7 linked regions of the Homo sapiens genome follow. The gene in region 4 interacts genetically with the main gene of each other region. Each region holds a gene or a part of one and is shown on either strand. Other genes may lie near its edges.

Region 1 (4,411 bases), on a different chromosome or scaffold from region 4:
ACTGTATTCCTCTCTGTCTAAATAATCCCTCTTTCGCATGGTTTTGAACACCAAAGTGACCACATTTTTCCATTTATCTTTTTTTTTTCTAAAGATACTGAAGATTTTGCTATGCCTCAATTGCTTGGATTTTAATCAGTATTTGGTATCAGTCAATATTTGATTATTTCAATATAGAATATCATTATAACTTGAAACAATAATAAAACTCAGTGTTTAAAGATTCCCCTTAAGGAACCGACGTAAGTGCCCATCAGCTAACAAGTGGATAAAGAAAATGTGGTATACATACACCATGGAATACTACTTAGCCATAAAAAGAAATAAAATATTGTCCTTTGCAGTGACTTGGATAGAGCTGGAGGCCATCATGCTAAGTGAAATAACTCGGGAATGGAAAACCAAATATCATGTTCTGACTTGTAAGTGGGAGCTAAGCTATGAGGACACAAAGGTATAAGAATGATATAATGAACTTTGTGGACTGGAGGTGGGAGTGGGGAGAAGGCTGAGAAGAGAGGTGAGGAATAAAAGACTACACACTGGGTACACTACACTGCTTGCAAAACCAGTGCACAGAAATCAGCACTAAAGAATTTATTCTTGTAGCCAAAAACCACCTATACACCAAAAACTACTGAAATTGGAAAAAAAAAAAAAAAAGTTTCCACTTCATGAAATCTTCCCTAAACTTCTGTCATATCTATTGGAAGTCTGATTTGTAGAAGACTCATAAAAGGAAAAATGAAACAGAAGTATCACCTTGCTAACATAAGGTTGGCATTTGGATTATTAGTCCCTGGTCCTGTTGGACTCCATTTGATAGTATAAATTTCTTTATTATGTGCTTGCAAATCATGGACACAATTGTCTTGTTTCATACTCCATATCTAAACAAAAAAGAAAAATGTATACAATTATTTTTCCATACAATGAGTATATTTAAAATATTATTTTGACACTTAAAATATTATATGGACAGTCTAAAACATGAGTGATATAACCAGAATGATGATAGAATATTTACAAAGAAACTGAAATGCAATAGGATATATTTAATATTTACATCTCTGTTTAAAAAAAAAAGTTAGCTTTAAGCCCTTTAAAAATATTCACTATTACAAAGTTTGAAGACTGAATTAACTATAGTTGTTCTGAGATTAGTTAACGATCCTAAAATGTTGAAGGCACAGTTTTTACACTGTCCCTTAAGCAAAAGATCTACATAATAAACTGCTCTTAGAATTTTAGAATCAGGAAAATTTTACAATGGAGAACTGAAAATAAATAACCAACTTATAAATAATGAGGACTCACAGAGAACCGTAAAAAGTAGCATAGGAAATAAAGCTCAAATGAAAAGTAGGAAAAAAAAAAAGTAGAAAAAAGTAGTCAAAGTAGAGAATAAGCCTTTCCTGAGATGAAAATATGCCTGTGTGTATAGATTTCAAGTGACTATTATTTTTGAGCAAAAATTCATAGAAATCAACACGAAGAGTATTTCTGGGAAAAAAAAAATCACTCAATAAAGACATGGTAGGTCCTGCAGTTATCTCCTTAACACATACACATACAACATGCCAAACCCAAGGAGGGCCAACCAAGAAAAAAATCAGCTCAACTTTACATTTCCGTGACATAACCATTAAAAGATAATGAAGCATCAGAGTGTTTTTGGTGCCCTATGTATTTACAACCCCAAGTAAAATAAATCTGAACGACATGTTTTCAGAACTGATTTCATTAGACCTTTCTAATTCATAGAATTTGATACTGTTGGCCACTCTCAACTCTTACCTCCCTTGAAATAAGTTTCCTCTACATACTTTCTTTTTCCACTTTCTCAGTCACCTTCTCAGTTTCCTTTGGAAAGCTCATCCCTCTTGATTTGGTGATTGTTAGAGTTTCTAAGACTCACTTTTTTAGGTCCCCTCTTTTCTTACTCTGTACTACCTACACAGTTTTGTCCCTGCCCCAATTTTTTTTTTTTTTTTTTGGAGATGAAGTCTCACTCTCTTGCCCAGGCTGGAGTGCAGCACCACAATCTTGGCTCACTGCAACTCCGTCCCCCGGGTTCACGCAATTCTCCTGCCTCAGCCTCCAGAGTAGCTGGGATTATAGGCACCTGCCGCCACGCTCGGCTAAATTTGGTATATTTAGCAGAGATGGGGTTTCACCATGTTGACCAGCCTGGTCTTGAACTCCTGACCTCAAGTGAACTGCCCACGTCGGCCTCCCAAAGTGCTTTAATTATAGGCATGAGCTGTGGCAACATGGGGGCACTAGCTGTGGGTGTCTGCCTGCAGACCCTGACCCAGCAATGGATGAATAAAGTACACTAACACACAGATATCCTGTTTCGCCAGTCCAGCTGAGGGTGTCCGAGCCATTTACAGACTCCCTGGAGAGTTCTGTAAACAGTTGCGACCATGGCCCTATCCGCTAGTGAGACTCAAATTTATTCAGTAAGATTAATTCACAAAGGCTTGAGTCAACACCATTAGAGGGTAACTGACATTGTGGACTTCCCAAGTAAAAAGCACTTAAGCACCCATGGCACATCAAAGGTTAGTCTTAATATTATATGAGTAAACAAGCTAGCTAGGTAAACTACCCTGCCTTCCTTTATTACTAGTTTAATTTGTTTAACTAAAGGTAAAGGAACCAGGCCGCGTTCAGCCAGATCTATTACTGAAGTTACTTCTCAGTTTTCCAAGAAGATATGTGTCTATTTCTATAACTATCTCTAATATTTTTCCCACCAGCCTGATTGAACCCCAACAGTGAACCACCAGGCCTGGCCATGCCCAAGGATTTTAAAGACCACCTATCTGCTGAGAATTCCCAGTTTTTAATCTTGAGCTTACAGTTCTCTAAGCATCAGTCCCACCTATCTCCTCCATTCGCATGACTCAGCGTCACCTTCTCATTCCATCTGGCATTCCCTCTTCTCAGAAAACGGCCCATTACACATTATCCATCCATCCTAGTTTTTGCTTTAAAATCCTTTGTGACATTTAAACATTCTTAGGATGAAGAAAAGCTCTCTAACAATTTCTAGTTTTAACCTCTCTCCAGCTTCAACTCAATATGTGGCACAAGGCCCTCTGGACACTGCCCTTCTGTCATTTCCTCATATGTGTCACACACAGTTCCAGAAGAAGTTTTTTTCATGTTATAAGCATTAATACGTGTGCACATAAGGAAAAGCCAAAGATGAAAGCATTAAGAAGAGTATTAATACTAGCAATTTTGTAAGGGAGCCCAGACTTAAGAAGAACTGTCTAAAAACATAGCAGATACTTAAAGGAGAAAACCTCACAAGTTTCGCAAAGTTAAATTTAATCTGTTCATAGTAGCAGGAAAATCAGTTTTCCCTCATGATTTTCATATCTGTAACGGTCATCACATCTGCAGTCCTTGGTACTGCAAAGTCAAGGATAAAACTGTTTTCAGTAGAGGGTTAGCTGTTGCAGGAGAGGGCTCAAAGCTTCATTTATTTTGGAAATAAGTATTACGTTGTTCTTTATCTCCAAATGCTTTTTTCCCCAAATGAGGAATCTGGTGTGCTTAGGTGCGAGACAGCAGTTTTGCTTTTAGTCATACAACAAGAAAAACAGAGATCCATGTTGAGATGTGGATGTTGGTATGTCAACTAGGCTCGCTCACTGAGAGATTCTCTGCTATGTATCAGTTTCCCAGCAATGGTGATACATAGTCATACCACAGCAAAATCAAATTAATACAACGCAAAGAATTCCAATCAAATCCATGAATGCTACAAAGATTTTGAGTACTTATTAAGTCAAATCTTTACATATGCAAATAAACTTTAATTGCAAATAAACTTTAATTGCCTCAACATATGACTTTCTAATGGTGAAGACAATTTATAGCATGACCTTTCTTACTATTGGTGATGTCTAATTTTATCTGTCTTCTTGACTGAGTCACAGGGTACAGATATTTGGTGAGACATTATTTCCGGCTGTGTCTGAGGGTGTTCCCAGTTGAGACAGGCATTTAACTTAGCTGACTGAGAAAAGCAGACTGCCACCCTCCCCAATGGGCGGCGGGGGGGGCATCACTCAGTCCAGTGAGGCTCTAAACAGAACAAAACCGCCAAGGAAGCAAGAATTCTCTGCCTCAGCCTGACTGCTGAGTTGGTATATTGGTCTTCTGCTCTTGGACTGGGACTTACACCATTGGCACTCCTTCTCTGGCCCTGGAATGGAACCACACCTCCATCTTTCATGGGTCTCCAGCTTGTAGACAGCAGACTGTGGGACTTCTCAGCCTCTATAATCACGTGAGTCAATTTCTCACAGTAAATCTCTCATCCATCCATCCATCCATCCATCCATCCATCCATCTTCTTATTGGTTCTGTTTCTCTGGAGAGCCCTAACTAA
Region 2 (3,469 bases), on a different chromosome or scaffold from region 4:
GGTTCCCTGCGTTGCTTTCTTGGCCCCAGGATTCCCGGATTGCTTGCCTTCTGGCAAAATGTGGAGTGAGGGACTTAATCGCCAGCAACAAGAAAGGTTTCTTTGCACACTTATCCGGCTGATCTATAAGCAGTGAATAATTGCGGCATCTCAAATACAGCAGAAAGTCTTTAAATCTGTCCGGCAAGTTGTTAAAACCCGTAACCACCGACGTGACCCTCAGGTCAGGTTCGCAGTAGTTCAGATGGCTTATATTGGAGAGCCTGCCCGCCTCCCCCGTCTGGTTGGTCAGCATGCTCAGGATGGGGTTGTACTGCCGGTTCAGCTTCTCTTGCTCTCGGTTCCAGTATGCCTCGGGAGGGGTAGATATCTTCCAGAACTTCTCTTTGGGTATTATTACTTCCCCTTTTCCATTTTTTTCTTGGCTACTGCTTTTGGAGACTTCCATAATAAAATAAATGAAGACATTTGCCATCATCAGGATACCCAACAACTTTATTCTTCGACGTCCAACACTCATTTCTCATATCTGGAATAAAGGGGTGGAGTATTGTATCAATTACTTATCAATTTGCATTTGCACATACAATTTATTTTACCTGTCTCCCCAGGAATAGTGGTTTACAGCAAAGACTCTACACTTGCACTGCCTAGGTTCAAATCTTGGCCCTTCCTTTCTAGCTTTGTGATCATGGGCAAGTGGGATAGTCCCTGTCTCAACTTCTCCATATATAAAATGGGAATCAAGCCCACTTCAAAGGATGGTTGTGAGTATATGATGTTATATGGAAAGCTTTTAAAATAGCGCGTGGCTCACAGCAAGCACTATGTAAGTGACTGTTTGAGACATGCTGAAGCTAGAAATACCTATTACTAAATAACCTCAGGAGAGTTCAACTTCCTTGCTTACAATGGCACATACAGTGCTTGGCAAACCGATTTGCCTAAATTATAACAAATACATTTTTATACTGTGTTTAGTATACACATACATACACAAAACTCTATTTACATGTGTGACGCATTGTGTGCAGTTCCATGTCATTCACTCTCAAGTTCTCTTCTATTTCATTTGAAAAACTTTGAGATTTTAAAATGTAGAAACAGGGACTGGTTACGTTGCTCAGGCTGGGCTCAAACTCCCAACCTAAGGTGATCCTCCCACCTCAGCCTCCCAAAGTGCTGGGATTATAGGCATGTCTGACCCTATCTCTCTCTCTTTTTTTTAATGTTAGTCCCAACCCTGAGTTATTTTCCAACCTACCATTTTACAGATAAGGAAACCAAAGCAGAGAGATTAAGACACTTGCCCAAGGTTGCAGGGCTAGGAAGCAGGAGACAGGAACCACAGAGCATCTCAGACAGAGAAAATGAAAGCAGACTCAGGACAGCTTTATCCCAATAGCCAAGAACTGGCAACAGCCCAATATCAACAGAACAGATGATCAAACTGTGGCATCTGCATACAATGGTATATCCCCTCGGCAATAGAAAGGGAAACTATTGTGGATGAAACATTACAACATTACATTGTGAATGAAGGCCAGACCCAAATTTTCATTTATATTAACTTCAAGAACAGGCAAAATGAATTTAGGTTCTAGAAATCTGAAAGTGATGGAGGTGGTGGGCTTAGAGAAGGATAGGAAGGAACTTCCTGGGGTACAGAAATGTACCATGTAGGTCTTGATCCTGATGAAGGCTCCACGGATGTATGCATATGTCAAACCTGAAGTGTATATTTAAGATCTCTATTGTTTGTAGCAAAAAGGGAAATACAAATGATATTTTAGTGAAATATCAAAAGATTTCAGGCTGTGGGCAATGGAAGAATAAAGAATGAGTAATGAGATGGTTTGCTGGGGATATCCAAGGTTCTAACACTATTGACATGGATGACCTATACAAGAATGAACATTTAAACCAAGGTGACATTAAAAGATAGCCCAAAAAAGTGGGATGGCAATGTTCTATAAAGAGCTGAAGATTTTCTTATCAGGTTAATTCAACTGGGAATTTATCCTTAGGTACTATTACTCATTCCCATTTTATACCTGAGGAGGTACACATTTAAAGAAGGGCAGACTGGAATACCAGCCAAGGCAAACAGATTCCAAGTCTGTACCATGCCAAAAGGTAGCTACACTTCTCCAATCCCTAAAAGAAAGCTTTGCAACTATTTTAATCTAGTATTTGCTTTTTGAAAGGAGAGGATTTTTAAGTTCACTGGATTCTAACAAACGGTAAAGTAGAAAAATATTTGTCATGCTGAGAATGCTGTAAAACTATTACATATTAGAGAGCCCAGATGAGATCAACAGGAATTCACAAGCTATTGTGTGTCTGTAAAGATCTGCCTAGTAGACCTTTATCTGGTTGCTTGTATTTACTACTGCTGAAACCACCTTTGCAAAGATTATGGACAGTAAGAAATCTAGCATGGCTGACTCCATCTTGCGTCTACCCTCACAGGCTAGCTGTCTCCACTCATTCCTGGGCATAGGCCAAGCTAACCACGGGAGAAATTTAGTTTACAGTTTAACTTCGAAGCAAAGATGGTAACAGTCCCTCCATAAAACTGATCCCTTCCTTGTTCAGGGGGCTGAGGCTAATGAAAGGTCACAAGATTAGGATTGAGAGGGGCCTGAATTCTGCTAAAATGTAAGCACAGTTTTTATAATCCCGTATTGCTCAGAAGTCATGTGGCCAGAGGCCACAAGATCTTTGACTTCCCCAAGTGCTCCTGTAGTTAACACCACTATTATAGAAACTAAGATTGGTCTTCTGAATGTTTCTCAGACTTACCCCACCCAGACTAGAGACTCATGACTCCCCCCAACCCCTGCAGACTCAGCACATGGCTTTGATTGCATCCACAGCCAATCAGCAGCACCCACTCCCTGGTCCCCTGCCCACAAAACTACTCTTGAAAAACCTAACCTCATACCTTTGGAGACTTCCGTGATAACTCCAGTTATTTCTCAAATACTTCTCAAAAAGAAAAGGTTCTCTCTAACTTGGGACAATTCTCCTAATGCTAAAGTGAGCCCTTGACCCAGTACTGCTGTCTCTAGGTCTCAGGCCCTTCCTAGTCTGGAAGGAAGGGCAACAGGAAATGTGTGATGGTGAAAAACTACAATGAAGAAAAAGATTTGCAAAGGGGCCAGGCAGAGTGACTCACGCCTGTAAACCCAGCACTTTGCTTTGGTAGGCCGAGGTGGGCAGATCACTTGAGGCCAGGAGTTTGAGACCAGCCTGGCCAACACAGCAAAACCCTGCCTCTACTAAAAATACAAAAAAGGCATGGTGGTGCACTCCTGTAGTCCAAGCTACTTGGGAGGCTGAGGTTGCAGTGAGCTGAGATCGTGCCACTGCACTCCAGCCTGGGTGACAGAGCAAAACTACTCAGGAAAAAACAGCACATACTATGAACAGCTTAATACCCGGCAAAAATTTAACTCAGTAAAGG
Region 3 (4,411 bases), about 180 Mb from region 4:
AGGAATGTACCACTCATATGAAGTTCTCTGCAAACATTGGCAGAAATTGAAAAGTTACCTGACAGGAGCAGAAACCACCTGTTACTGAGTGCCAAGCACTTTATGTGCATTGATCTCATTCAATATACACACCTCCCATTTTTGATTAGGAAACTCAGGCTTACAGATTCAGTAAGAACTAGTAAGTGTTGAAGGTGGAATCTCAACCCTGGAGAAGCTATACTTCCCATTTAAAGAATGACTGAAGCCAAAGAGTTTCTATCAGCCCCATAACTGAATGCATAAAACGATGATGCATGTCTAATGATGTCAAGGGTCTCAAATACTTTGCTAAAGAAAAAAAAAAAAAAAAAAGTAGCCCATTTCCAGGTAAATTCTACTTATATTCTTCACCATTCCAGCTTCTGTTCTTGTAAAACTGCTCAAATAAAATATTATCTAAAATCCAATAGGCTTTGTTTATTTCAAAGACATATTGCTGTGATGCATTTCACCTCACTTGTAGATGAAGTACAAAGCAGAGAACAATTCTTAAACAGAAGCTTCACAGCAGCCACTTGAGTCTGGGCACTGAGTGCCACAGAGTGGGAAGAGGATGCTGTAGATTTGAGTGTTAGCCCTGAGGGATGCAGTTGAAACCTCACATTCCTTCCAAATCAGCTGTGCTGGCTCAGACTACTCCACTTCATGGTGATCCAATGTCTACCTCCAGCAAGGAAAGATGAGGTCAATAAGGAAGTCTGACACAAAATAACATGGGGACTCAGCCAAAAGCTGGGAATAGAGAAATGAAAAGCAGCTTGAATTCGAGCATTAAGAGAAAAGAGGGCTTGTGCTGGGCTCCCTGCCTTCTTGACACAAACATGACACTAAAGAAAAATAATCATGTAGGCCTGGCACGGTGGCTCACGCCTGTAATCCCAGCACTTTGGGAGGCCAAGGTGGGCAGATCACGAGGTCAGGAGATCGAGACCATCCTGGCTAACACGGTGAAACCCCGTCTCTACTAAAAATACAGAAAATTAGCTGGACGTGGTGGCGGGCGCCTGTAGTCCCAGCCACTCGGGAGGCTGAAGCAGGAGAATGGCACGAACCCAGGAGGCGGAGCTTGCAGTGAGCCGATATCGCGCCACAGCACTCCAGCCTCGGGGACAGAGCGAGACTCCGTCTCAAAAAAAAAAAAAAAAAAAAAGAAAGAAAAGAAAAATAATCGTGTGAGGGCCAGGGCTGGGATGCTATTACTTGCACAATTTCAGAGAGCTCAGTTTCCAGGGCTGAGTATATGAAATGTTGTCGTGTGGTTCTCAAACACACACAAAAATAATCAGCCGGTGACCAAGTCCTATATTCCCAGAAACCAAAGAGGAGGGCTGCAATCTACATTTTTAATAAATACCCCAGGTTATGATGACATACTTGGTCCAGAGACTACTATGTCAGAGACACTGCTCTAGGGCAAAAGAAAAAAAAAGGATAGGGGTCAGAACTAAAAGGGTTTTATCACCTAACTTTCAAACCAACCTCATAAGATTATGATAAATAACAAATCACTACACATAAACTGCTTAAAACAGTAAACTGTTTTACTGTTTTTTTACAACTATGTTAGCTATTAGTGATACTATCATCATGATAATAATTATTATCTAAGGTAAAGTCGTCTTTACTATGTCGTTCACCTTAAAAGTCAGTTTTGAACTTAATACCTTTCTTCATTCCGCAATGAATAAACTGTGTTAGTTTATGTAAAACTCCTCAAGAATAGGGAACCTGTCTCACTTAAATTCGTATCACTAGCTTGTTGCATGGTTCCAGGTACCTATCACAAAGCAAGTGCTCAAAAAATCTGTGAAATTGAGCCACATTGCACAGACCATGGGATTCAAAAACGACATTAGTAATGATGGTGGGGAATGCAAGACCTTCCTTTTAGAGGGGACTATGTTGGGTTTTTTCCTAAAAACAAAAAAGGGAAAACCTGGGCTCATAGGATAGAAAGCTTTATAAAGTAATTATTCCTCTGGAGTTTAAAAAAAAAGAACTATTATTAAATATACATGCAGTGTATTACATGAAAATGCCTAAGGCTTTCTTTATGCACCACTGTGACCACTGTCTTGATAAACTCCACACACACAACAGAACAAAAAAGACACACACACACACATAGAGAGAGAGAAGGAAAGAACACATGCCATCACAATGCCATTACCTTGGGTCTACATTTGGGATACTCATGGTCACCTGGGAGCACCTTGAAAGAAATTGGTACTCGATCAGCTCTCCGATTTGCACAGAAGGCGTCCCAGACAGCTCGATGGACTGCATTATAAACTACATCCAGGCCCGTTAGAGTAACAAAGGCCATAGGCCGGCAACATAATTCCACAGGGAAGTCCCACTGTGTGGGGCTCATGTTTACGATGTCACAAAAAACCTGAAATACAAATGTTAATACATTCATAATTAATTTTTAAAAACTCATATTCATTTCTCCAGCCTGGGCAACAAGAGCAAAACTCTGTCTCAAAAAAAAAAAAAAAAAAACAACTCATATTCATTTCCAATATATGAATCTCTATTTAAAAATCATTACAAAAAAATAATCATTACAAGGCCAGGCATGGTGGCTCACGCATACAATCCCAACACTTTGGGAGGCCGAAGCAGGTGGATCACTGGAGGCCAGGAGTTAAAGACCAGCCTAGCCAACACAGTGAAACCTTGTCTCTACTAAAAATACAAAAAATTGGTTGGTCGTGGTGACTCACGCCTGTAATCCCAGCACTTTGGGAGGCCTAGGTGGGCAGATCACGAGGTCAGGAGATCGAGACCATCCTGGCTAACACGGTGAAACCCTGTCTCTACTAAATATCCAAAAAATTAGCCGGGCGTGGTGGTGGGCGCCTGTAGTCCCAGCTACTCAGGAGGCTGAGGCAGGAGAATGGCGTGAACCCGGGAGGTGGAGGTTGCAGTGAGCCAAGATGGCGCCACTGCACTCTAGCCTGGATGACAGAGGGAGACTCTGTCTCAAAAACAAAAAACAAAAAATTAGCTGGACATGGTGGCACACACCTGTAACCCCAACTACTTGGAGGCTGAGGCAGGAGAATCACTTGAACCCAGGAGGCGGAGGCTCCAGTGAGCCAAGATCACGGCACTCCACTCCAATCTGGGTGACAGAGTGAGACTCTGTCTCAAAAAAAATAAAATAAATAAAATAATCATTACAAAAAGGCAAAAGGCTTTGAGTATCTGCAAACTGTCAAACAAACAGAAGAGAGAAAAAGGGAAAACTTTAATTCCTGAATTAGATCTATTAAAATGTAATAACTATATGACATTTAAGAAAAAATCTTTCATGTTAAAAATGAAGTCAACTTTAAGACAAATCGGCATTTTCAGTAATGTCTCAAAATGCACACAGAACTTTGAAATTAGTAGACCAAGAAAGCAAGAAGGTGATAAAATTAAAATAGATCTACATGATCTATTTCAACTATAAAAGAAAAATATATTGAAAGAAAAATATAAAAGAAAAACAGTTGACTTACATATAATAAACTTCCCCTAATTTCTCTGTAATTGCTAATATTGAATTTCTGAATACCTAGGATATTATTAAAATAGCCTTTAATTTATGTAATTATCTAAATAGTAGCTATGTTGTCTCATTTCCCACAATATAAAATTTACTCTTTAAAGAAAAATCTGTAAGGGAAAAACTAACAATGAATGGAAACCTCTCGGAGGATGTTTCCACTGCGTCCTTTAGCTAAGAATCAGTCCATAATAAATCTAACGTATGCCCTGACTTTATAAGTATATAAAACTATGTTTATCCCGAACAAGACTGTCATTATATTTTTAATATAATCTTACTTGCAAAAGGATGTAACAACATGAGGTTCTTTTTTTTTTTTTTTTTTGAGACGGAGTATCACTCTGTCACCAGGCTGGAGTGCACTGGCCCAATATCAGCTCACTACAACCTCCACCTCCCGGGTTCAAGTGATTCCCCTGCCTCAGCCTCCCTAGTAGCTGGGACTACAGGCATGCACCACCACACCCAGCTAATTTTTTGTATTTTAGTGGACAGGGTTTCACCATGTTGGCCAGGATGGTCTTGATCTCGTGACCTCAGGCGATTGCCAGCCTTGGCCTCCCAAATGAGGTTCTTTTAAAAGATAATCTATACCAGCATATTACAGAGAATTCAGGTAAGGCACAAGTGGCTCATGCCTATAATCCCAGCACTTTTGGAGGACAAGGCCAGAGGATTGTTGAGGCCAGGAGTTCAAGACTGGCCTGGGAAACATAGTGAGATCCTGTCTCTAAAAGAAATAAAAAAGAAAATAGCCGGGCATGGTGGTGCTCACTTGTAGTCCCAGCCACTTGGGAGGCTGAGATG
Region 4 (4,411 bases):
TTTCCTGCCTGGGCTACCGCGTGGCTGCCCGGAATCCCTGATGGGGTCACCAGTGTTTCACGTAGGACGCCCCCAACCCTCTGCCTGGCATTACTTCCAATTATAGATGTGAAGAGAAAAGAAACAGAACAAAGGAAGAAAAGGGTTAAAACCTGTTAAAGTCCACTCTGTGCCCCTGACCTTCCCAGAACCAGATGATTAAAGCTCATTAACACCCATTCCTTTCGCGTATGACGCAACTAAGCCTCATCGGGGCCAACTGGAGAAATAAGGGCTCTGAGGCGTCACAGAAGCATGGCAGCTTCCAGGCACCGCCCGACCGCCCCGTGCCAGGCAGGGAGCACCAGGTGGGGCCACTGTCAGCCCCACGGCAGCTGGGCAGAGGCGGAGCTGGGGCCAGGGCCCAGCCGGTCCCTCCCCTCCTCCTCCAAAGACCGGCCACAGGAGACCAAGCAGTACCCAGGACCGTTCGGCCAGCAGGAGGGGAGGCGCACGACAGAACCAAGGAGCAGAGTGACCCAGCAGGCTCTCCAGTGGCCGCGGCCACAAGCACGCTCGGCCCAGTCTCCCGCCCCATCCGCTGCCCCATCCGCCTGCAGGTGAGCAGAGGCCACCGAGCTGCCAGTATCCAGGAAGCAGGGAAGTGCCTCCTGGAACCCATGGCAGAGAAAAGAAATGCTCTGGTGGACAGCCCAGGGGTGCAGTGGGCCTGCAGCACACGCCTGCAGGGGACGGGGCATGGGTCTCCACTGACCACCCCAAAGCCGAGGGCTCCCAGTACGGCTGGGCCCATGCCCCTCCCGTGAGGTCCTCGCGCCCTGGCGTCCTCGGAGGAGCCACTGGCCATTCCACCCACTTTCCTTCAAGATAGGAAACCAGATCCCAAACGTGAGGTCTGCACGGTCAAAACCGCGTCCTGGTTCGCCTGTTCCTTCATTCCCTCTGGACGGGAGCTGCCCACGAGCACCATAGACAGGCCGCCCAGTGACACTGTACATGGCCTCCCTCTGCACGTGGCCTCCCTCCCCGCTGTGTGTGGTGGTGATGACTTCTCATGAGCAGAAAGGTTTATGTTGCTGTTTCTGAGTGAGTGGATAGACATCCGCTCTCAGTATCCTTGGATTTCACTTCTGATGAGGAAGGCATGGACACACGGGATCACTGCAGACCGCTCGGCTGCGTCAGAACCGCCTGGGGGGACTCCTGGGTGCTGGGTGAGTGGGAACCGGGTCCCTCGTCAGAACCGCGTGGGGGACTCCCGGGTGCTGGGTGAGTGGGAACCGGGTCCCTCGTCGGAACCGTGTGGGGCACTCCCGGGTGCTGGGTGAGTGGGACCGGGTCCCTCGTCGGAACCGCCTGGGGGGACTCCCGGGTGCTGGGTGAGTGGGAACCGGGTCCCTCGTCGGAACCGCGTGGGGGACTCCCGGGTGCTGGGTGAGTGGGAACCGGGTCCCTCGTCGGAACCGCGTGGGGGACTCCCGGGTGCTGGGTGAGTGGGAACCGGGTCCCTCGTCGGAACCGCGTGGGGGACTCCCGGGTGCTGGGTGAGTGGGAACCGGGTCCCTCGTCGGAACCGCGTGGGGGACTCCCGGGTGCTGGGTGAGTGGGAACCGGGTCCCTCGTCGGAACCGCGTGGGGGACTCCCGGGTGCTGGGTGAGTGGGAACCGGGTCCCTCGTCGGAACCGCGTGGGGGACTCCCGGGTGCTGGGTGAGTGGGAACCGGGTCCCTCAGCTGAACGGTGGGGAGGGGGGAGCAGGTGGAGACACCAAGCCCCATCAGGCTCAGGCACCCAAGGTGCCTCCTCACATCACCCATGAGCTGCCCCTGACCACCGTGCCAGGGTTCCCCGGACAGCCCACCCTTGCAGGCTTGGGGACACACCCAGGAGGCTTCACAGTCACACGGCCTGTGCTGAAGCAGGCTTTGCAGCATCCCCCAAGCCCAAGGCTGTTTCCGACTGCACGCACTTCCGGGCCAGAGAGCGCAGACCAACCACAAGGAACAGCTCCACAGGGGCCACGGCCCTGCTCCTGGGCCAGCCGGGTGGACACCTGAGATTTCCAGGGTTCCGTGTGGGGCTCCACCCTCGTGCTGGCGGCCTCCACATGGAGGCCCTCCGTGCCTCTCAGACACTTTCCGACAGAAACAGACAGCAGATGCCACGGACAGGCCTGACCACAGCTGTGCTCTGCCACCAGGTGTGCAGGAAGCCCTCCCTCGAGGGGCACCTGACCTCGCCCAGAGCACACCGGGGGTCAGGTGGCAGCAGTCCGGCCCGACGCCCATGCAGCCCAGGTCCCTCGACTTGATCCGAGGCAGTGCCTCCTCCACACGGTCGCAAAGAGACCGGCCGGCTTCACTCTGCCGCCGACGCCAGGAACCCCTACCAACCTGACATCTCTTAATATGGGCTCAGCTTCCACGACCATGAATTCGACTTTTCAAAGCTTTTTATCTTCAGGATCCCCAGGCAGAACCGCGTCCTGTCTCGGAGCCTCATCCCACGTCCTTAATTGTCTCGAGCCAAAGTGCTCAGGCTTCTGATCCGCGGCAATCACTGAAGCCTGCGTCGGGGTCAAAGTCTTACTAAAAATCAAACACAAGAGACACATTAAAATGCCATCGAAGGTCCGACCAGAACTCACAGACTCCAGGGAACGCCTCAGAAGTGGACCTCACTGCATCTGCCACACCCGGGACTGCTGTCTGGGACCTACCTGGACTCGGGGGCCTGCTGACAGCCAGGGGCCCCGGCTCCTGCCGCACACACGAAGGGCGCTCACCCTGAGGTTGCAGTGCCAGGCCCGAGGCCGCGCCCCTGTGGCCCCGAGGCCTACTCCTGGGAACAGTCCCCCAGGGCTGCGGCCACCCCCACAGGCTCTAGCCGCATCCAGATGTCCCCAGTGTCCAAGAACCAGGGGACGGAGGGCACAGGGTGTGTGCTGTGGGCAGGGAAACTGCGGAAAGGCTCTGCCTCCTGTTCTGGAAGCTTCTATCTCATGTCACTGATTCCCGGGCCTCTGTGACCAGGCAAGGACGTGGAACTTCCCAGGAGCCACCGGGAGAGGTGCTGCTGGCTTTCCAGCATCCAGCCTGGCACTGCCTGCACTGAGCCGCGCCGGCTCCACCTCCGACCCTCAGTGCATCCTGGCGACGCTCCCTCAATTCTCCCAAAAAAACTGCTCAGCTCTTCCTGACCGCTACGGCCAGGGCCTGGCGGGAAGCTGAGGGCACGAACCCCAGTGGCTGAATGCACAGGGGCAGGGGGCCCCTGAGAGGGCCAAGCCTTCCAGTAGAGGCTTGAGAGTGCACACGATCGCCCAGCCCTCGGGAGGGTGTCACTGAGCTGCCCACACCTGGCCCCTGCTCTGGCATGAAGACACAGCACCGAGGCTGACCCCAACGTGCAGCTGACATCAGGCTGACCAGGACAGGAGCCGGCCACCACCAGCCCAGCAGCATGGCAGGCGTGGGCTGAGACGACTGCCTGCCAGGCCAGAAGGGGCCACTCAGCCAAGCCTAAGACCCTGGTAGTGTGCTGTGAGGCCGCCCCTGCGCAGAGGCCTCGCAGACAAATCTCCAACCCTCAACTCCCTCTGCAGGATTCAAGCATACATGCCGACCATCTCCAGCTTCCAGAGACACCATCACAGGGGCTGGGGTGCAGCCCCACGCACGCACCTCCCATCCAGGGTCCCCAACACCACTCCTCATGGCAGGTGCTGTGTGGGACTCCCTGACGGAGGGCCCAAGAGCAACACTGTGGAGCGGGATCCCCATCACCTGCGCCTGAGCCCCCATGACCTGCGCTGCAGCCTCCTGCCCTGAATGCCAGATCTCCCCATGGTACCCGGATACCACATAAAAACAAACTAAAAGGACAGGAGAAAACCGCCTAAATGTCACATTTCACCCACGAGCCAGCCTGGCCAGGGGGCAAGGCACCGCGCCACCCACGCCCAGCCAAACTCATCAATGCCAGCCGATACTCATCAACGCCAGCCGATACTCATCAATGCCAGCCGATACTCATCAACGCCAACCGATACTCATCAATGCCAGCCAATACTCATCAATACTGGCCAAACTCATTGATACGGGCCAATACTCATTGATACCGGCTGATACTCATTGATACCAGTCAATACTCATCAATGCTACCCACGGTGGCCCAGTACCGGCTGCTGCTCGTCAAGACCGGCCAATACTCAATACTGCCCACAGCAGCATGGCACCAGCCGCTGCTCCTGGAGGATCATCGATACCCATCAATGCTGCTCAATGCTTATCTATACTGGCCAGTACGTGCCCACACCTGTGTCTCTGAGGAAGAAGCAGATGTGTGAAGGCCACCCTGGCCCTCCTGAAAGGACCCTGCAGTGAGGAGGCCGTGAGCTCCCGAGCTGAGG
Region 5 (4,411 bases), on a different chromosome or scaffold from region 4:
CCTGAGCTCAGGCAATCCGCCCACCTTAGCCTCCCAAAGTGCTAGGATTACAGGCAAGAGCCACCGCGCTGGCATGAGTCTTTTTAACATTGTATTTTAGGGTGTATTTACTTCTACATTATGTAGGTATAAGCCTCCAGAGGGGAAGGACTGCCAAAAAGGGAAAACAATAGTTTCTCTATCATAGAGCATTGTGAGGCTTAAGTAAAGTGATACATGTAATGCATTTAGCAGAGTGTTAGACTCTGTGCTCAATAAATGTAGCCATTGTAATTACCAGGCTACAGGCATTGCTATATTTAAACTACAATTTCTGCTAAAATGCACAGTCTATTGTTATTACTTTGATGCTGTTGATGTTGCCTAAATATTTGTGGAGTGGAATAAAGCAAATAACTTTTGGCAGAGAAAAGAATACAAGGATACAGTATATACAACGTATACAAATACATGTTTTTATGTATAAAATACAAAGGTAGTTAGATGCTGTATCCAGTCTTCTGCAAGACTATAGGTCAAAATACAACTAACAGCTGGACATGGTAGCTCATGACTGTAATCCTGGCATTTTGGAAGGTCAAGGTGGGCAGATCACATGAGGTCAGGAGTTCAGGACCAGCCTGGCCAACATAGTGAAACCCCATCTCTACTAAAAATACAAAAATTAGCCAGGTGTGGTGGTGCGTGCCTGTAATCTCAGCTACTAGGGAGGCTGAGGCACGAGAATTGCTTGAACCCAGGAGGCAGAGGTTGCAGTGAGCCGAGATCATGCCACTACACTCCAGCCTGGGCAATAGAGCAAGACCCTGTCTTTAAAAAAATAAAAAATAATAAAAAAAAAAGAAACAACCAACAGATATTTATTAGGTGTATACCTGTGCCAGACGTAATGATTATGAATGCCACAAGGTTCTTTGTCCCTAAAGAGTTTTCAGTTTGGTAAGATAGACATGCAAAAAGGAAATGATAAAACCAAGCAGAAGGGGATATGTTCTCAGGGACCTTAATTCAGACTATGTAAATTAGGGAGGAAGCTCCAAAGAGCATTTGTCGTGAAACTGTCAGTGGAAACATAGCAAATAAAATTAGGGATTGCTGGGTGCAGTGGTGTATGCCTGTAGTCACAGCTACTCAAGAGGCTGGGACAGGAGGATCACTTGGGCCCAGGAGTTCCAGACTATAGTACATTATGCTGATTGGGTGTCTGCACTAAGTTCTGCATCAATATAGTGACCTCCCAGGAGTGGGGGACCACCAGCTTGCCTTAGGAAGTGTGAACCACCTCAGGTTGGGAACAGAGCAGGTCAAAACTCCTGTGCTGATCAGCAGTGGGATTGTCCCTGTAAATAGCCACTGTACGCCAGCCTAGGCAACAGCAAGACCTTATCTCTAAAAGAAAACAAAAAAATTTGGGAGTAAGCCAATGTTTCATTTTACTAGGCTAAATTTTTGTTGGGTCTGATTATATTTGAAATCTAGATAAACTTAATTGTCATGATATTAGCATAATTAAAGGTGATGTCTTTCCTTGCAAATTAAAACAGCAAAACAGTCATTCTGTCTTTATGCTTCTGAGTTTGCAATATTTGATAGAGTTCTCCCCATCCCTAGTAGAGGGGCAGGGGTAGATAAACATGAAACCACATCCCTCTTATTTTATTTATTTATTTTTTTGAGATGCAGTCTCTTTCTGTCACTCAGGCTGGAGTGCAGTGGTGTGATTTCGGCTCACTGTAACCTCTGCCTCCCGGGTTCAAGTGATTCTCCTGCCTCAGGCTCCCAAGTAGCTGGGATTACAGGCTCCCACCACCACACCTGGCTAATTTTTGTATTTTTAGTAGAGACGGGGTTTCGCCATGTTCGCCAGGCTGGTCTTGAACTCCTGACCTCAGGTGATCTGTCCATCTCGGCCTCTCAAAGTATTGGGATTACAGGCATGAGCCACTGCTCCTGGACTCTCTGAGGTTATTTTCTTACTCCTGTTAGATCTAAAGATTTATTGTGACGGTCACATTAAGACACTGTTTGGGAAATTCTTTGAACATTGAATAACTGTAACGAATTGTGCTGTATCTGTGGGAACCAGCCTGTTTTGTTCCTGTTATATGCCAGATACACAATATTTGAGGGGGTAAAAGGCTGTCCAGAAGCCTAATTCCCAGATACTAAGGGCTGCTCTGCCCCTGGAAGCAGTGCGGTAGTAGAAAGGGCACAGGGTATGGAGACAAAGGTACCTGAGCGCCATCCCACTCTGCTGCTGTGTAGCTTGGTGTTCCTGTGTGAATCCATTAGTCATTGTAAGCCTCGTTTCAAAATAGAACCTCATCTGTCAATGGGGTGGCAATACCATCCTGATGGGGTTGTGAGGAACCAGTATGAGAACATACAGTGTACCTAATGAGTGTTTTTCTACTTGAAGTGGCTGAATTGTCTTTCAGATGATGAGCTAGTTGTGAACCCCAAAGTGTTCCCTCACATCAAGCTTGGAGACATTGTAGAGATTGCACACCCCAACGATGAATACAGGTGAGTGTCTCATAGGATCCATGGAACTGGGCAATTCACTGTTTCCAAATGATGTCCAAGGCAGATAGCTCTCTTTGCCTTTCAAAATGCTCATGCTGTGATGGCTCAATCCTGTAATTCCAGCACTTTGGGAGGCTGAGGTGGGTAGGTCATTTGAGCCCGGGAGTTCGAGACCAGCCTGGGCAACATAGAGGGACCCTGTCTTAAAAAAAAATGATCATGCCTTCTAGGATTTGATCAACAAATAATTTTTCAAAAGTGGTCCATTCCTTCGTTTTTTTTTTTTTGAGATGGAGTCTAGCTCTGTCACCCAGGCTAGAGTGCAGTTGTGTAATCTCAGCTCACTGCAACCTCTGCCTCCCAGCCCCAAGTGATTGTCCTGCCTCAGCCTCCTGAGTAGCTGAGATTACAGGCTCAGCCTCCCGAGTAGCTGAGATTACAGGCATGCGCCATCACGCCCAGCTAATTTTGCATTTTTGGTAGAGACAGGGTTTCACCATGTTGCCCAGGCTGGTCTTGAACTCCTGACCTCAGGTAATCCACTGGCCTTGGCCTCCCAATGTGCTGGGATTACAGGTATGAGGCACCGCACCTGGCCTAATTTTTGTGTTTTTTAGTAGAGATGGGGTTTCACCATATTGTCCAGGCTTGTCTCAAGTCATCCATCCTGCTAGGCCTCCCAAAGTGCTGAGATTACAGGCATGAGCCACCATACCGAGCCGTTTTTTTTGTTTTTTTTGTTTTTTTTTGTTTTTTTTGAGATGAAATCTCACTCTGTCACCCAGGCTGAAGTGCAGTGGTGGGATCTTGGCTCACTGCAATCTCTGTCTTCCGGGTTCAAGCCATTCTCCTGCCTCAGCCTCCTGAGTAGCTGGGATTACAGGCGCGTGCCACCATGCTTGGCTAATTTTTGTATTTTTAGTAGAGACGGGGTTTCACCATGTTGGTCAGGCTGGTTTCGAACTCCTGACCTCGTGATCCGCCTGCCTTGGCCTCTTAAAGTGCTAGGATTACAGGCATGAGCTACCTTGCCGCGCCCAGCCTTTTTTTTTTTTTTTTTTTTTTAAGAGACAGAGTCTCGCTCTGTCACCCAGGCTGGAGTGCAGTGGTGCCACCTCGGCTCACTGCAACCTCTGCCTCCTGGGTTCAAGTGACTCTTCTGCCTCAGCCTGTCGAGTAGCTGGAACTACAGGTGTGGGCCACCACACCTGGCTAATTTTTGTATTTTTAATAGAGACAGGGTTTCGTCATGTTGGCCAGGCTGGTCTCGAACTCCTGACCTCAGGTGATCCACCTGCCTTGGCCTCCCAAAGTGTTGGGATTATAGGCATGAGCCACCGAGCCCAGCCTCTTTCTGGTTTTAAAGCTGAGATGACAACTGAAAGGTTCTGTAGCATTTGTCCATTTCCTTTAGTGCGTATGGAGTTTCTTTGTTTCTTTTTTTTTTTTTGTGAGACGGAGTCTTGCTCTGTCGCCCAGGCTGGAGTGCAGTGGCACAATCTTGGCTCACTGCAAGCTCCACCTCCCGGGTTCACGCCATTCTCCTGCCTCAGCCTCCCAAGTAGCTGGGACTACAGGCGCCCACCACTATGCCCGGCTAATTTTTTTGTATTTTTAGGAGAGACGGGGTTTCACTGTGTTAGCCAGGATGGTCTCGATCTCCTGACCTCATGATCCGCCCGTCTCGGCCTCCCAAAGTGCTGGGATTACAGGCATGAGCCACCACACCCGGCCTAATTTTTTCTATTTTTTAGTAGAGAAGGGGTTTCACCGTGTTAGCCAGGATGGTCTCGATCTCCTGACCTCGTGGTCCACCTGCCTCGGCCTCCCAAAGTGCTGGGATTACAGGCGTGAGCCACCGCACCTGGCCGAGTTTCTTTGTTTC
Region 6 (4,411 bases), on a different chromosome or scaffold from region 4:
GTGATGCACACTTATAATCCCAGCTACTCAGGAGGCTAAGGCAGGAGAATCACCTTAACTGGGGAGGCGGAGGTTACAGTGAGCCAAGATGGCATGCAGTGGTGCAAACACAGCTTACTGCAGCCTTGAACTCTGGGGCTCAAGTGATCCTCCTACCTTAGCTTCTGAAGTAGCTGGGACTACACACAAGCGCCATCACACCCGGCTAATTTTTTAATTTTTGTTTAAATTTTGTGTAGAGATGGGGTCTCTCTATGTTGCCCAGGCTGGTCTCAAACTTCTGGGCTCAAGCAATGCTCCCACTTCAGCCTCCCAAAGTGCTGGGAGCACAGGAGTGAGCCACTGTGCCTGGCAAGAAAATTTTTCTTGCCAATTCATAGATGGTGAACTAAAGGACATAGCAAAGGCAGCGCTATGCAGTGAAAAACAATAAAAGCAGAGCCGAGGCTGAGGTTCGTAAAGGGATCATGGGCTACTGATCTAAGGGAGACAGACAGAGGCTTGGCAGTTGATGAGGCATTTGGTCTTCACCCAGTGAATTACTGGTTTTGTTTACAGGCCATGTGACACAATCTCCTTCCAGGTCTGCCAAAAGCTACCATGAAAAGAGCAGACTCTTTTGGTAGTGGGTGTTTGAGCCCATGACACTTAGGGGCTACCTCAAGAAGGAAGCTTGAATCCAACTTCTAAAGGGTAAAATCCAAACACTAAGTTGTTAGGAAAATAGAGTAAAAGAAAACCCAACAGTGCTGTGTGCTGTCATTGTCGCTGCCTTCCCAGCCATGGAGCCATTACACTGGAGATAAAAGTTGTACCATATCCAAAAACAACAGTGAAAGCATCCACACCATTCAGTCACAAAGACTACACTGTTTATCTTTGCATTTCAAGCTTGTTAAGAAAAGCAGGCTGGGCACAGTGGCTCACGCCTGTAACCCCAGCACTTTGGGAGGCCAAGGCAGGTGGATCACCTGAGGTCACCTGCCTGACCAACATGGTGAAATCCCGTCTCTACTGAAAATACAATAATTAGCCAAGTGTGGTGGCAGGTGCCTGTAATCCCAGGTACTTGGAAGCCTAAGACAGGAGAATCACTTGAACCCCGGAGGCGGAGGTTGCAGTGAGCCGATTGGGCCACTGCACTCTAGCCTGGATGACAGAGCAAGACTCTGTCTCAAAAAAAAAAAAAAAAAAAAGCTTGTTAAGAAAAGCAGTTTGTAACCAGGGAGAGTGAAAGCCATCTGGATGCGAGGATGTTGGCTACCTTGGGAGGGGACTGGGTGGTAACTGGTAGGAGGCTCAGGGGGCTTTGCTGGTTATGCTGTTTCCCGACCTGGATGCTGATTATGTGACTGTGCTCCCTTTGTGAAATCCATGGAGCTGTCCACTTATGTGCACTTTTCTGTATGTCTGTTAATTTTCTTTTTTTTTTTTTTTTTTTTTTTTTTTTTGAGACAAGGTCTGGCTCTGTCACCCAGGCTGGAGTGCAGTGACACAATCTTGGCTTACTGCAACCTCTGCCTCCCAGGTACAAGCCTTCCACCTCAGCTTCCTGAGCAGCTCGGACTACAGGGACACAACACCACACCCAGCTAATTTTTGTATTTTTTGTAGAGACAGGTATAACCTGTTGGCCAGGATGGTCTCGAACTCCTGAGCTCAAGCAATCTGCCTGCCTCTGCCTCACAAAGTGTTGGGATTATAGGTATGAGCCATAATCCCACCTGGGCTCTGTTAATTTTCAGTGAAATGTACTGTCAAAGACTGCTTTGTCTTTGCCTAGAGAAAAGAATTAGGAGAGGCTTTTCCCTGTATAATGTTTGAGATCTTTCTAATTTTGACACAAGTAAATGCATTATTACATAATGAAACTCAATGTCTAGGTGAGAGGTTGGCAAACTACAGCCTGCAGGCCAAATCTGGCTCAATGCCTGGTTTTCTTTTTAATTGGGATATAATTGACATACCAATTCAGTGGTTTTTAATATGTTTAATATATTCACAAGGTTGTACAACCAACCTCACTACGTAATTCCAGAACATTTCATCATCCCCTAAAGAAACCCTGTAACCCTTGGCAGTCATTCCTTATTCCCCCACTCCTAGAACTTGGCAACCATTAATCTAGTTTCTGTCTCTATGGATTTGTCTATTCGCTACAGAATACATTTAACAGAAATGGAATCATAGGCATATGAAACATTAGCATGTTTCCAAGGTTAATCTATGTTGTAGCCTGTGTCAGTATGTTATATCTATTTTTATGGCTGAATAATATTCCACTGTGTGGATATTTGTTTATATTCATTCAATTGATGGCCATTTGGATTGCTTCCACCTTGTGGCTATTATAAAAAGTGCTGCTATTGGCCAGGCATGGTGGCTCTTGCCTGTAATCCCAGTACTTTGGGAAGCCGAGGCAAGCGGATCACTTGAGGTCAGGAGTTCAAGACCAGCCTGGCCAACAAGGTGGAATCCCGTCTCTAGTAAATATACAAAAAATAAAAATAAAAAAATTAGGCGGGTGTGATGGTGCACACCTATAATCCCAGCTACTCAGGAGGCTGAGGCAGGAGAATCGCTTGAACTGGGGAGGCGGAGGTTACAGTGAGCCAAGATGGCACCACTGCACTCTAGCCTGGGTGACAGAGCTAGACTCCATCTCAAAAAAAAAAAAAAAAAAAAAAACACTGCTATGAACACTTGTGTACATGTTTTTATGTGAACATGTTTTCAATTCTCTTTGGTATATTCCTAGGAGTAAAATTGCCGATCATATGGTAATCTTGTGTGTGGTTTTGAAGAATGGTCAAACTGTCTTCCACACTGGGTGCAGCATTTTGTGGTTTGGATTTGCATTTCCCTAAGACCTAATGATGCTGAGCATATTTATATGTGCTTTTCGGCCACTTGTATGTTTTCTCTGGAGAAGTGTCTATTCAAATCCTTTGCCCATTTTAAATTAGGGTTATTTGTCTTTTTAGCCCTGAGCTAAAAAACGTTCTTTTTATGTTCTGAACACTAGATTTTTATTAGATAACTAACTTGCAAATATTTTCTCCCATTCTGTGGGCTGTCCTTTTATTATTATTTATTATTATTATTATTTTTGAGACGGAGTCTCGCTCTGTTGCCCAGGCTGGAGTGCAGTGGCGCGATCTCGACTCACTGCAACCTCCGCCTCCTGGGTTCAAGCGATTCTCCTGCCTCAGCCTCCTGAGTAGCTGGGACTACAGATGCCTGCCACCATGCCTGACTAATTTTTGTATTTTTAGTAGAGATGGGGTTTCACCATATTGGCCAGCCTGGTCTCAAATGCCTGACCTCAGATGATCCACCCGTCTCGGCCTCTCAGAGTGCTAAGATTATAGGCATAAGCCACCGCACCTGGCCTTTTTATTTATTTATTTATTTTTTGAGACTAGGTCTTGCTCTGTCACCCAGGCTAGAGTGCAATGGTGAGATTATAGCTCACTGCAATCTCCAGCTCCTGGGCTCATGTGATCCACCCACCTTAGCCTCCCCAAGTAGCTGGGTTTATTCTAACAAGTGTGTGCCACCATACCCAGCTATTTTTTTTTTTCTAGATATCGGGTCTCACTATGTTGCACAGGCTGGTCTCAAACTCCTGGGCTCAAGTGATCCTCCCACCTCAGCCTTCCAAAGTGCAGGGATTACAGGCATGAGCCACTGTGCTCAGCCCCATCCATTCCTGCCAGTGCAGCTGGAGGAATCTATTCAAACCAGAAATCTGAGCACATCACTCATTTGTTTTAGCTCTCTGTGGATAAAAGCCAAATCCCTAATACATTCTGGAAGGTTTCTAGTTAAACTGCACATCTACTATCTGCCTGGCTCTGCCCACATTCTGCTTCCCCTCCTGCTACCATAGATGAGCTCCCGGCCCTTTGCTGAGGCCGATGCCTCCATCCCTGCTCTGTTCCACCCCCCTCCTTCCTGAGGACCTAGTTCCTTTCTCATTTTTCTCTCTCTCTTGCCCAATCAACACACACTCCATGCTACATTACTTTCCTGAGTGTCTCGCCCAAGTCTATCAAATCTATGTCTTGAAACACCTTCCTCACGCAACCTCCACCTCCTGGGTTCAAGCAATTCTCCTGCCTCAGCCTCATGAGTAGCTTGGACTACAGGCATGCACCACCTTGCCCAGCTAATTTTTGTATTTTTAGTAGAGACAGGGTTTCACCATGTTGGCCAGGCTGGTCTTGAACTCCTAGCCTCAAGTGATCCACCCACCTCAGCCTCCCAAAGTGCTGGGATCACGGGTGAGAACCCCATGCCCGGCCCCTCACTTAAGCTTCTAAGACATCAATGCTCCTGGTTATCCTCACACTTTTCCAAACGTTTGTTCCTTTTGTGGGATGTACAAAAAGAGCTAAGTCTCAAAATA
Region 7 (4,411 bases), on a different chromosome or scaffold from region 4:
GGCGCCTGTAGTCCCAGCTACTTGGGAGGCTGAGGCAGGAGAATGGTGTGAACCCGGGAGACGGAGCTTGCAGTGAGCCGAGATCGCGCCACTGCACTCTAGCCTGGGCGACAAAGCGAGACTTGTCTCAAAAAAAAAAAAAAAAATGAAGGTTAACAAAAGTATATCATCTAAATTGTAAATGATGTTAAAAGATATGTTTCAGCTCTCATTTGATAAATGAAACAGCTAAGCACATCTAAAAATGGGCAAAACTAAATAATACAGTTTAGGAATCCATAAGTGATACAACTATGAAGAAAAGCAGGGGAGGATTAATATAAAATTCAGGCCAGTGGAAAACTGGTTGAGAAAGAGACATATGTAAGAATGTGGAGTCCTTGGCCGGGCGTGGTGGCTCATGCCTGTAATCCCAGCATTTTGGGAGGCAGAGGCGGGCGGATCACGAGGTCAGGAGATCAAGACAATCCTGGCTAACACAGTGAAAGCCCGTCTTCACTAAAAATACAAAAAATTAGCCGGGCGTGGTGGCGGGCGCCTGTAGTCCCAGCTATTCGGGAGGCTGAGGCAGGAGAATGGCGTGAATCCAGGAGGCAGAAGTTGCAGTGAGCTGAGATTGCGCCACTGCACTCCAGCCTGGGTGACAGCGAGACTGTCTCAAGAAAAAAAAAAAAAGAAAAAGAATGTGGAGTCCTTTTGCATGGGTGTTTATCATTATTCTTTAAAACTATTAAACTGTGTATATGTATTTTATATATTCTTTTATATGCATGCTACATCTCAATAAAAAAGCTTTAATAGAATTTTTCTACCTCTGAACTTCCCAGGTTGTTTTTTGAAGGTAATTCTAACAAATCTGCTTATATAATAAAATAAAATGACTAGTACTTCTGGCCGCAGGTTTTGCAACATTCAGCTCCACCTCAAATCTAGTCAATCAAAATCTCTAGGGGTTGGGCTGCTGAATATTTTTTTTTTTAAACAAACACTCCAGTGATTCACAAGAATCTAAAGAAACTCAAATTTGAGTCTCCCACAGGAAGAGGTCTTCCTTCTGTTTTTCTCTAGAGCTATTGAGAATCTAATCCCCTTCCTTCCCCAATCCTTCCCCAAATCCTCTACAACTTTGCTCCTTACCTCCCCTTCTCTTGTATTTAACCTTTCAACCTCAAGTCTCTCCTATCTTAAAATACAAACACACACTCACATTTATTCTTCAATAAAATAACCCATGCATGGTTCTACTTGTAACTTCCCAATAACTCTTTTTGTAAAACCACCAATACTATGTGTGATATTGTTTAAATTTTTTTTTAAAAAAGAAAGTAGGAGGACCCTACAATATAAAAAGCCCCATTTCACCAACACCAACTCTTTCAGTGTAATCAATATAAGCATATAATTCTACTCTCCTCCCCAGAAGTAACGGTTAAGTGTGTAGTCTTGGGACTTTTTTTATTTACACATATATAAAAATCCACAGTTTTTTAACAACATAAATGAAAATACACCTTAGTTCTCCCCCTCACTGACATCTGAATCAAACACTGTGTCAAAGCACTAATGTCTTCCTACCATTTCAACCAATAGTCCCTGACCTCTACTGCACATGACACTGGTAACCACTCCCTCTCTGGGATCTGCCTTCTCTGCAGATTCCATGACACTGTACTGCCCAGGTCTCTCTTGCTCTTTTGATTATTCCTTGTTAGCCTACTATGCTGATAACTTTCCCCATGTGCCCCATGAACACTAGTATTTCCCACCATTACATCCAAGCTTTCATCTGTCAATTCATTCAATGAACAATCACCACCTACTTCATTCCAGGAGGACAACTTTGTCAGATCCCCATTTGTCAATGGTTTTGCATGTGAACCAATGCTCCAAATCACTTGCATCAAAGAAACAAATGCTGCCTTGCCGCGGTGGCTCACACCTGTAATCCCAGCACTTAAGGAGGCCGAGGTGAGTGGACCACCTGAGGTCAGGAGTTCGAGACCCAGTCAGACCAACATGGCAAAACTCCATCTCTACTAAAAATACAAAAATCAGCTGGGCGTGGGGGCAGACGCCTGTAATCCCAGCTACTGGGGAGGCTGAGGCAGGAGAATCGCTTGAACCTAAGAGGTGGAGGTTGCAGTGAACCCAGATGGCGCCACTGCACTCCAGCCTGGGTGACAAGAGCAAAACTCCATCTCAAAAAAAAGAAACAAATGCTTGCAATTTTAGCATGATACATAATTTCACTTTGCAACTAATTTGAACTATATTATGATCAGCAAGCCCCTACGCCAATCAGGAGGATGGGAATTAGAAGTAAGCTTGAGTAGTTAATTTTTTAAGGTGATAACTTATTAATAATTATTTTCATATCATGAGAATTTTTCTTCCCTACATAACCTTGTAATTTCAAAAGCTCAGAAAATGAACTCTCAGGTAATAGGGACTCCATTTTATGTTATTAGCTCCCAAGTCTCTATCCCAGATTACTCTCTCCTGAGCCAGAAATAAACTTTCAACTACATACCAGACATTCCCCCATGCCCACTCTGGCGGTGCCTACTCATCATTCTAATTTCAGCTGAAACATCACCTAGTGCCTCCCCTCAAGGATCCATCCACTTAACTATTAAATAAATCTGACACTCAATGGTGTACCCTGGCATCTAAGACAAAGGCAAAGACCTTCCTAACTAAAAAGATAATTTAAAATGCAAGTGGGGCTGAGAGCTGTGGCTTGTGCTTGTAATCTGGCACTTTGGGAGGCTGAAGTGGGAGGATGGCTTAAGCCCAGGAGTTTGAGACCAGCCTGAGCAACACAGTGAGAGCCCATCTCTACAAAAATTTAAAAATTAGCCAGGCATGGTGGCATGTGCCTGTGTTCCCAGCTACTTGGAAGACTTAGGTGGGAGGATTGCTTAGGCCCAGGAGACTGAAGCTGTAGTGAGTGAGCCGTGATAGTGCCACTGCACTCCTGCCTGGGCAACAGAGATCATGTCTCAATAGATAGATAAATAATATAAGTAAAATAAAATAAAATGGAAGTGGTGGGTATATACATAAGAGTGAAAAATAAAAAATAAAATGTAAGTGGGACTGGGACTGAAGAGAAGGGAAACAGAATGAGGGAAGAGAGGAGGGGACCAGCATAAAATGCAACAGGGAGTGGTAGGATTTGTTAAACTCTCAAAAGAATGGATAAAAAGGAGTTGGCCAGGTGACAAAAATTTTTGACATAACTTTTTTTGATAGGGAAGAACAAGAAGGAGTGCTTCAGATATTAGCAGAAATAAGAACACAACCAAACCTGTGCCTTTGTTTACCTTGCTGAGCGTTGAGCAGCAGGGAGGGTTAGTGATAAGGTTAAAATGGTTGGCAGATGCTAGAATTTCAGAAGAAAAATTACTATAGATTCGTATTTTTTCTCTCCATGCTTGATAATTAACTGCTTATTAAAAACCACTTTCCACTTTACATCTAGATTTAAATGACACATTTTACTAAATGATTCAGAAACAAGACAGGAACAAGGAAAAAATTTAAAGCTACATTTTAACTGCATTTAGTCTTACAGTAAGAAAACAGCTCAATAGTATCATCATGATCATGTAAAAGTTTTTAAAACCTCTTCTATTAAAGAGGGAATTCTGAAAAGGAAAAATGTGCATTGTTCCTTTCCTTTGAGAAATCAAAGTACTTTCACATTTATCCTCATTTTATCCCACATACTGAGAGAAGGTTATAGGTTACGGAAACAGGGAAACAGAAAAATTAGGTGATTTCCTTCATTCTAAGATGCATGTTTTTGACCCTGACTTTTTAAAAAATCAAAGTGGATCTCACATTACTGATTTTAAAGTCATCTTTTCTAGGGGAGGGCCACACTGAGTGTATCTTACAACTATGGGTACACTCTGCATTAAAGAAATATGGTAAAGGATTTTGCCCAAATTAGTAAGCAAGAAGGTGGCAGAACTGGGCAACAACAACAACAACAACGACACCACTTCTGTTAAGTTATTAATATATACAAACAGGAATATAGTAGCCTGTTTGGCTCCTCTCTTATTAGTTAAATATACAGGGCCTACCTTCTACTACGCTCTTCCTGAAAGAAATACAGAGCCATACAAAACATCTTTTCTGACTTCAAGAAGTATATAATAGGTACCTACATAATAGAGGTGCCTATACAAGTATCTATACAACAGAAAAGTCTGGGATCAATATCAGAAGAATGACACAAAGTGAGAAACATAAATTCAGAAACGGAGTAGTCACTTTCAGCCAGGATACTGTGAAAATCTTCACACAATAAGAGCTTAATATATGTTGACTGTGAAGGCATTACGGAAAACTCAGATAAGACTTTGAAGGACTGATGGATCTTCCACAGGGAGAGATTGTG

What was found.
Region 1: changes in CTBP1 (region 4) and TBL1XR1 together harm fitness less than expected from each alone (positive genetic interaction), as found in Homo sapiens cells (one large-scale study listed by BioGRID).
Region 2: changes in CTBP1 (region 4) and B3GNT2 together harm fitness less than expected from each alone (positive genetic interaction), as found in Homo sapiens cells (one large-scale study listed by BioGRID).
Region 3: changes in CTBP1 (region 4) and TRAPPC11 together harm fitness less than expected from each alone (positive genetic interaction), as found in Homo sapiens cells (one large-scale study listed by BioGRID).
Region 5: changes in CTBP1 (region 4) and DEPDC5 together harm fitness more than expected from each alone (negative genetic interaction), as found in Homo sapiens cells (one large-scale study listed by BioGRID).
Region 6: changes in CTBP1 (region 4) and VPS51 together harm fitness less than expected from each alone (positive genetic interaction), as found in Homo sapiens cells (one large-scale study listed by BioGRID).
Region 7: changes in CTBP1 (region 4) and RAB2A together harm fitness less than expected from each alone (positive genetic interaction), as found in Homo sapiens cells (one large-scale study listed by BioGRID).

What each region holds. Positions count from the first base shown.
Region 1 is NC_000003.12:177,033,436-177,037,846, forward strand, and holds part of TBL1XR1 (F-box-like/WD repeat-containing protein TBL1XR1), read right to left. Parts: intron 4,310-4,411; exon of another isoform or gene 3,970-4,309; intron 891-3,969; coding exon 763-890; intron 1-762. UniProt on the Homo sapiens protein: F-box-like protein involved in the recruitment of the ubiquitin/19S proteasome complex to nuclear receptor-regulated transcription units. Plays an essential role in transcription activation mediated by nuclear receptors.
Region 2 is NC_000002.12:62,219,272-62,222,740, reverse strand, and holds part of B3GNT2 (N-acetyllactosaminide beta-1,3-N-acetylglucosaminyltransferase 2), read right to left. Parts: intron 530-3,469; 5' UTR 521-529; coding exon 1-520. UniProt on the Homo sapiens protein: Beta-1,3-N-acetylglucosaminyltransferase involved in the synthesis of poly-N-acetyllactosamine. Catalyzes the initiation and elongation of poly-N-acetyllactosamine chains. Shows a marked preference for Gal(beta1-4)Glc(NAc)-based acceptors.
Region 3 is NC_000004.12:183,661,873-183,666,283, reverse strand, and holds part of TRAPPC11 (trafficking protein particle complex subunit 11), read right to left. Parts: intron 2,438-4,411; 5' UTR 2,417-2,437; coding exon 2,213-2,416; intron 28-2,212; coding exon 1-27. UniProt on the Homo sapiens protein: Involved in endoplasmic reticulum to Golgi apparatus trafficking at a very early stage.
Region 4 is NC_000004.12:1,238,932-1,243,342, forward strand, and holds part of CTBP1 (C-terminal-binding protein 1), read right to left. Parts: intron 2,589-4,411; 5' UTR 2,401-2,588; coding exon 2,394-2,400; intron 1-2,393. UniProt on the Homo sapiens protein: Corepressor targeting diverse transcription regulators such as GLIS2 or BCL6. Has dehydrogenase activity. Involved in controlling the equilibrium between tubular and stacked structures in the Golgi complex.
Region 5 is NC_000022.11:31,756,108-31,760,518, forward strand, and holds part of DEPDC5 (GATOR1 complex protein DEPDC5), read left to right. Parts: intron 1-2,438; coding exon 2,439-2,526; intron 2,527-4,411. UniProt on the Homo sapiens protein: As a component of the GATOR1 complex functions as an inhibitor of the amino acid-sensing branch of the mTORC1 pathway.
Region 6 is NC_000011.10:65,098,803-65,103,213, reverse strand, and holds part of VPS51 (vacuolar protein sorting-associated protein 51 homolog), read right to left. Parts: intron 1-4,411. UniProt on the Homo sapiens protein: Acts as a component of the GARP complex that is involved in retrograde transport from early and late endosomes to the trans-Golgi network (TGN).
Region 7 is NC_000008.11:60,519,428-60,523,838, reverse strand, and holds part of RAB2A (ras-related protein Rab-2A), read right to left. Parts: intron 1-4,411.